Linked DNA regions of Homo sapiens. The protein of the gene in region 2 purifies or fractionates together with the protein of the main gene of each other region. This does not show direct contact. Each region holds a gene or a part of one and is shown on either strand. Other genes may lie near its edges. The genes, in order: CEP78 and DPP7.

Region 1 (3,369 bases), about 59 Mb from region 2:
GATGAAAACTTAGTTCACACAAAACCTGTGCGTGGATATTTATAGCAGCTCCATTCATAGTGACCAAGATGTCTTCCAACAGGTGAATGGATAGCGATGTATCCATATGGTGGCAAACATGCCACAATTCGGATGAATCTCAACATCATATGCTGAGTGAAAAAGCCAGTCTCGGAAGGCTACATTCTGTATGATTCCATTTATATGGCATTCTTGAAAAGACAAAACTATAGTGACAGAACAGATTGGAGATTGCCAGGTGTTGGGGTTGGGAGGAGTTGATTACAAAGAGGCTGTACAAGGGAGTTTGTTTGTTTGTTTGTTTTGGTGATGAACAGTTCTGTATCCTGATTGCGGTGGTGGTAACGTGAGTCTATACATATGTTAAAATTTATAGAACTGCATACTCTCAAAAAAATTAGTTTTACTCTATAATAATATTAGAGCTTAAAAAATTCATCCCTCTTGCCCATCAGTAGATCAGGATATGAAGGATACCATTGAACATAAATATTTTGTATCCATGATGAATACAAAGTATATTCTCCTGGAAAACCAATAGAACATTCATATAAATGATTCCTATGAAGGTAAAAAACTTACAAAATTCAAAGATCATACAGATCATGTGCTCTGTATAATGTAATAATAGTAACAAAAGGCCTGTCCACTTGGAAATTTTTAAATGATCTTCTAAATAACTCATTTAAAGGAGAAATCAAAATAAATTGCAAATTATTTAGAATTAATAAAAACTTCTCTAAAGCTGAGGAATTCTACCAAAGAGGTGTTAGAGGAAATTGTATAGATTTTGATTTACTTTCCAGGAAGAAAGAAGACAAAAGAGATGAATTAAACATTTAAAGCTAAGAAAGAGATAAACCAAAAGAAAGGTGAGGAATTGGTAAAAGCAGAAATGAATAAAATAGCAAATTTTGATCAGTGAAACACAGGTTTTTAAAAATGAAAGATAAACCTTTGTAAAATATGATAAAGAAAAAAAAGCAAGAAGTAATTAACAAAAATTGCCAGCATTAGGAATAATTTTAGAAGGATACCTACAACTAGAAGAGATATTTTTAATTATGAGCACTTTTATAATTTACTATAAATAATTGTGTAGTGTTAAACCAATAAATTTGAAAGACTAGATGAAATGTGACTGTTTAAAAATATGGATTGTAAAAATTGATAAAAAATAGAAAATGTAAATAAACGAAACATCTTAGGAGAAATTGAAAAAATAGGACAAGAACTTATTTTTAAAAAGAGGCCAGGTGCGGTGGCCCATGCCTGTAATACCAGTACTTTGGGAGGCCGAGGTGGGCGGATCACCTGAGATGAGGAGTTCAAGACCAGCCTGGCCAACATGGTGAAACCCCGTCTCTACTAAAAATACAAAAATTAGCCGGGCTTGGTGGCGGGCACTTGTAATCCCAACTACTCAGGAGTCTGAGGCATGAGTGTCGCTTGAACCTGGGAGGCAGAGGTTGCAGTGAGCTGAGGTCACACCGTTGCACTCTAGCCTGGGAGACAAGAGGGAAACTCTGTCTCCAAAAAAAAAAAAAAAAAAATACAGTTAGAAAAACTTTAAAGGGGCCAGGTGTGGTGGCTCATGTCTGTAATCCCAGCACTTTGGGACACCAAAGTGGGAACATTGCTGAGACCAGCAGTTTGAGACCAGCCTGGGCAAGACCTCATCTCTACAAAAATTAAAAAACAAAACAAAACAAAAAAACCCAAAACTTAGCCAGGCATGGTGGTGCGTGCATGTAGTCCCAGCCACTCAGGAGGCTGAAGTGGGAGGATCGCTTGAGGCCGGGATTCGAGGCTGCAGTGAGCTGTGATCATGCCACCACTGCTCTCTAGCCTGGGCAAGAGTGAGACTCCGACTCAAGAAGAGAAAAAGAAAAACCTTCCAGGGGCACATTTATTTGTAAACCATTCCAGAGGATAGAAAAGAGATGTAAGGCTCCCTAATTCATTCCATACGGTTAGCGTAATCCTTATAGCAAACTGCACAAATAAAACACAAGGAAAACTAAACCAAATTCAATTAATGTAGGTGCAAAAAATCCAAAATAAAACTAGCAGTTTGAATTCAGCATTGTAGCAAAAGATATATCATTTTCAAGGAAGATTTGTACCAAAACATGCAAGATTGAGTGAAGAGTAACTCACTGTAGCTCACTAAATTAACAGATTAAAGAAGTATAGTCATCTTCACAAGCTGAAAGAGTATGTGATAAATTCAACATCCTCTGGTATTCTTAACAATCTCGAAATAGAAGGAAACTTCCTTAGCTTAGCTTCTTGGCTTCATTAAATATACCTAACAGAAATCCACAGGAAACAAACTTGGTGAAAAGTTTTTGCTAAGATAAAAACGGTACTAAAAAGTACACATTTTGGGAAATGAGACAAGGCTCTCGTTATTTGTAAATATGGGGTCTTTTTTTTTTTGGACAAAAAACCCCCTGTGATGATCTACTGGCATGCTATTACAGCTAATAAAGCTGAATAAGGAGGCTGTGCACAACACCAACACACCGGTATGAAAAGTGTGTACACCAGCAATAACCAATTAGAAAATGTATGAGGAAATAGACTCTCATCCACAATAGCTGCGAGAAGTAAATATTATCTAGAAATAAGATTAACAAGAGAAATGTAAGGCCTATATAAATAAAAGGATAAATCTATGCTAGAGGGTATAAAAGAAACACAAAAATAGAGGTATGCCATGTATAAGACCCAACATAATAAATAGTTCTACCAAATTAATTTATAAATTCAAAGCAATTTCATATAACCACAGTAAAGCTTTTTAAATGGATGTAATAACCTGATTATAACATTAATCTGAAAGTCATCAGGCATAAAGCAATTTTGATTACATCTCAAAACAATCCATGGAGTTAGGGTAAATGTGCTGTTCACACAGGAATAATCACAGGTATAGAACCGAGAACCTAGGAACAGAGCAATGTATATATATATGTATTTAAAAAATGGCATCACAAGTCAGTAGAGAAGGGTTTGAACTATTCAGTAAATGATGTTGAGGTTATTTACTACTTTTTCTTATTTCATATCATGGATGAAAAAAATCAAGATGAATTAAACATGGAAATTAAAAATAACTAGAAGAAAATACTGGAAAAAAATTGTAATAAATGTGTAAGAAAGGCATTCCCAACCAAGACACAAAACCCAGTAGCCATGAAAAAAAAGATAGATTTGACTACATTTTTAAAAAGTAAAACCTTTCACTTTTTACAAAACTTTGATAAAATTAGATTTCATAAATAAAGGAGTGGGAAAATACATGTAATAGAACAGAAGATTTAAGATAATATAAAGAGCACC
Region 2 (4,306 bases):
TGGTCAGCAGCCAGTCGGGCCGGGGCCACACGCCCCAGGTGTCCAGGCAGTACCGCTGGCGGAGCTCGTCAGTGAAGGGCAGGTCCGGGAACATATCGGTCACATTGTTGCTGGCGAAGGTCAGGTTGATCTCGGTGCAGGCCTGCAGGTGCCCCAGCCTGAGTCAGGCCAGCCCACGCCCACCCTTGCCCCCGAGTGGTTCCAGGCCACCCACACCCCCACACCTGGTAGTCCCAGGCCCTGGCGTCGGGGCCGGTGCCGCAGCCAGTGGGGTCAGCACAGCTGTGGTAGAGCCGGTAGATGTCGTAGCAGTGCTCGGAGCCCGAGGCGTTGTAGACCAGCCCTGGGGAGGAGAGGCGCTGGGGCCCAGCGGCCACACACAGACACACCGCGGGCTCCGGCCACCAACCTGTCCCCCCTCGGAATGGTCCTGCAGGGGATCTGGGGCTCTGGGATCTGTAGGTCCCAGTGAGGAAGGCCCTCCAGGCTACCTGCTTGGAGGTCGGCGGTGTCTGTGCTGCCAGCCCCGGGCCTGACTGTTGAGGGCCCCCCCGCTCTCCACGGGGCAGGGTGGGGCCTGCTGCCCTCTGTTGCCCTCCATGCTGGGGACCCCAGGGGCCCCTTGGGCAGCACCCACCAAGCTGGGCCTGGCTACAGCCAGTGCTGAGAGGGTCCCCAGGGACGGCCCCTGCCTCCCCCAGGGTTTCTGGGAAGGTCGTGCTGTCCACCCCACCACAGCCCTGGGGCAGGAGGCAAAGCCCCTGGCCGGGCTGCGGATCCTCGCCCCACCCGGCCCCAGGACCCAAGCCAAGCCTGGGGTCTCCACACTTGCCCATCTGGGGCCGGGGGAAGGGCACCTGCCAGTGCTCGCAGCCCCGTGATCCTCTGGGCCTCACTCAGCAGCCGATCACAGCCCACCTGGAGTGCAGGGGCAGCGGCGACTCAGCGGGGTCCCCTCCACCAGCTCCGCCTCCCTGGCTCCCAGGATGAGGGTCAGGCCGCTGACCACCAGCCTCGGGACACTCCAGCCGGCCTCTCCCTGCGCCCTGGGAGGCGGCGCCTCACCTTGACGGGGTTGGCAGGGAGGGGACCCAGGAAGTCAGTGGGGTAGGGGTAGTCCATCATGGCCAGCACGGTGAAGGCATTCCGGGCGAACATGAAGAGCTGGGTCAGGTCCTTCTCGTCTGACAGCGGCTGGCAGGTGCCGAACTCCCAGCGGACCGTGTCGTAGGCTGCGTGGAAGGGGCAGAGACTTGAAGTTTGGGCATAGCTGGCGCTGGGGCGGGTCAGGCAGTGGGAGGCGGTGGGAGGACCTCACCTCCCTGTAGGAACAAGTCCTTGATCTGTCGGAACGCTTCCCGCACACCCTGGGTGCATTTGGGACTCTGGCCCTCAAAGTCCTGGGGGAAAGAGACCGTGCTGACTGCAGCTGCTGTCCCTTAGGGGGCCTGGAGGACCCCAAGCCTCACTCACCGCCGTGACGTCCCGGAAGAACTGGTTGGAGTCGCCGAGGCCTGCCACAGCTAGAACGGGCGCGCTGGCCGCCAGCGCCCCCGCCACCAGGTGGGGATACTTCATCCTCAGGTAGGCACTGAGCATCCCCCCATAACTGGGTGAGGGACACAGGGTTAGGGCTGCTGCCCCCAACACCCCATTTCCTCTTTTCCTCCTCAGGGGCCCACAGGTGCCACAAGGAGGACGACACTTCTGAGACCCACAAATTCCAACCCTGGGCCAGGTGCGGGTGCAGCTCTCACTGGGAAAGGCCGCTAGTGTGGCCGCACATCCAAGCTGAGCAGGTGGCTGGGAGGACAGGTGGGAGGGCTTCCTGGGGGAGGCAACACTAAGCCTGGAACCACTGCCTGAGGCCTTACGAAAAGGCAGCGGTGGGAGTCAGAGGGGAGTGGGGAGAAGGGCTGGGGGCGCTGGGTCGGGGCAGGGGAGGGAGGGGGTGCGGAGGCCGGGGGAGGCGCCCACCTTCCACCGAAGGCGATGGCGGGGGCATCCTGGGCCCCGAGGTCGCGTCGTAGCGCGCGGAGCAGCTCTGCGAAGTCGGCCAGGGCCTGCTCCACCGTCAGCAGCTCCGTGTGCCCGCGCTGCGTGGACTGCGCACCGAACGGCAGCGACTTCCCGTAGTAGCGCTGGGGGAACGTGCCATTGAGCCCGGCCCCGCGACCCCGCCCGGCACCCGCGTGCCCCGCGACCCCCGCCCGCGACCCCGCCCGGCACCCGCGTGCCCCGCGACCCCCGCCCGCGACCCCGCCCGGCACCCGCGTGCCCCGCGACCCCCGCCCGCGACCCCGCCCGGCACCCACGTGCCCCGCGACCCCGCCCGCGACCCCGCCCGGCACCCACGTGCTCCGCGAAGACCAGTAGAGCCCCCCGCTCGGCCGCCAGCTCCGCGACGAAGGCCGAGTTGTTGGCGAAGGCCCACACGTCGCCCTCGTTCCCAGTGTAGAAGAAGATGGGCCCCTCGCCCCGGACCCAGAACCTGTCTGTGGGGAGGGCGGATGAGGCGAGGGTGCCGGGGGGCGGCGGGACGGCGGGGGCGGCCGGGCCGGGGCCGGGGTCTCACCCGACACCAGGAAGCGCTGAGGGAAGGTCTTGTTGCCGAAGCGCTCGAAGTTGAAGTGGTCCAGACGCTGCTGGAAGAAGCGCTCCTGGAAGCCGGGGTCCGGGGCCCTGCGGGCTGTGGGGGGACGCGAACCTCAGAGGCGGGGCCGGGACCGGGGAATGGGCCGGGGGGCGCCGCCACTCACCCCCCGCCTGGAGGCCGCGCAGCCCGAGCGCCAGCAGCAGGACCGGGGCCCAGGGAGCGGAGCCCATGTCGCCTTCCGCGGGCGCCCGTCACGTGGGCGGGGTCACGGGGCCGCCAGGGCGCGCTCCTCCCTCCAGGCCCCACGTGTTTCGGGCGCCCGCGGTCCCCACGGAGACCGTCGCTGCTTCAGCGCCGCGCCGGGGCTGTGCCCCCCAACACCCCGCGCCCCGCGGCCGCTGCCCAGGGGTCCTTCCCGGGCACGGCGCGGGGAAGCAGAGGGCCCCCGGGCCATCTCCGCGGCCTCCCGCCCCACTGGCTCGTCCTCCTACCGCGGCCCCATCCGGAGCTGCGCTAGGGCGAGTCCCTGCTGCGCCCGCCAAGCCTCCCCAGCACTTGCTCCTGGCAGGTGCCCCACTCCAAGGCAGGGCCGGGAGAGTGGGGGCCGTTCTGCTGCCCTAAGGGCGGGAGGGAGAGGGTCCCAAACAGAGTGCTGGCCCCCCGAAGAAAGCAACCCAGGGTTTGTCCAAGCGATAACGGGCTGGGCTTGGCGGGGCGGGGCCTCGCAGCGGGCAGGAGTGTGGGGTGCCCCTGGAGCGTCTGGGCAGGGCCGGGATGTGGCCGGGTAGCTCCCAAGAGCTGGGAATCGCCACCTGCCCTTCCGACTGGCACCCAGTGTGCCCACACAGCCCTGCAGGGACAAGGGGGGACCAGAGGCCTCTGCTGGGAGCTGGGGCCTCCTCCCTGGGGAGCACCCAGAGGATGGAAGAAGTCACCTTTCCCCAGCGTCCAGTTCAGGGAGTGGGTGAGGGGGCCGTAGTGGTGGGTGCCAGACTAGCTACGTGGAGTCCTGCTGGGGATGTACATGGGCCGCTAGCCAGGCCCAGAACAGGTGCAGGGGCAGCAGGGGCTCAGCTACAGAGAGTTACCCTGTCCTTCTCCCAAGACTACCCTCGGCCAGCATGACCCTGCCCTGCCCATCCTGTGTGGGGCTGAGCGGAGAAGACCGGCCACTTCCACAGCCCCTCACGCCATGGCCCTCCCGTGCCTCACACAGAGGCACCCCCCATGGTGGGTGACTGGTGGCTGGGGCCCTCAGCATGGTGGCAGTGACCATCACGTCACACTGCAACACGAGGTCATCCAGGGCCACACACCGTCCCCACCACGGCCCTCACATCTGGGCCCTGTCCCATCCCTACGCAGTTCCTGGGGCTGCCTGCCGGGGCCCCCGCAGGACGGGGGTGAGGACAAACAGCAGACCTCCTTGGATGTGGAGGTACCCCACGGCGTCCCCCACCCCACACCTCTGCTCCTTTGGCTCCCTCGGGTGCCTTAGGTGGCCAGAACTCCACCAGCAACCCTCACCCAGGACCGCAGCTCTGGAGACGCCAGCTAGGCCGAGAGCTGGCCAGCTCCCCAAGCACACCAGAGCCTGGAGACGCTCCAGGCTTGGCTGGGCCCACAGAGGGGCCAGAGCCTCAGGGAGGGCTCCAGGAGCAGGGTTTCCAAGGAAGCCACTTTCCCTCTTGTCCACGGCCCAGGCATTGA

What was found.
Region 1: the proteins of DPP7 (region 2) and CEP78 purify together in Homo sapiens (affinity purification with mass spectrometry, with the first as the bait; one large-scale study listed by BioGRID). This does not show direct contact.

What each region holds. Positions count from the first base shown.
Region 1 is NC_000009.12:78,274,052-78,277,420, forward strand, and holds part of CEP78 (centrosomal protein of 78 kDa), read left to right. Parts: 3' UTR 1-3,369. UniProt on the Homo sapiens protein: Centriole wall protein that localizes to mature centrioles and regulates centriole and cilia biogenesis. Involved in centrosome duplication: required for efficient PLK4 centrosomal localization and PLK4-induced overduplication of centrioles.
Region 2 is NC_000009.12:137,111,888-137,116,193, forward strand, and holds the start of DPP7 (dipeptidyl peptidase 2 isoform 2 preproprotein), read right to left. Parts: upstream 2,847-4,306; 5' UTR 2,827-2,846; coding exon 2,760-2,826; coding exon of another isoform or gene 2,690-2,759; coding exon 2,576-2,689; intron 2,496-2,575; coding exon 2,356-2,495; intron 2,142-2,355; coding exon 1,978-2,141; intron 1,610-1,977; coding exon 1,474-1,609; intron 1,401-1,473; coding exon 1,319-1,400; intron 1,233-1,318; coding exon 1,066-1,232; intron 919-1,065; coding exon 858-918; intron 344-857; coding exon 225-343; intron 143-224; coding exon 1-142.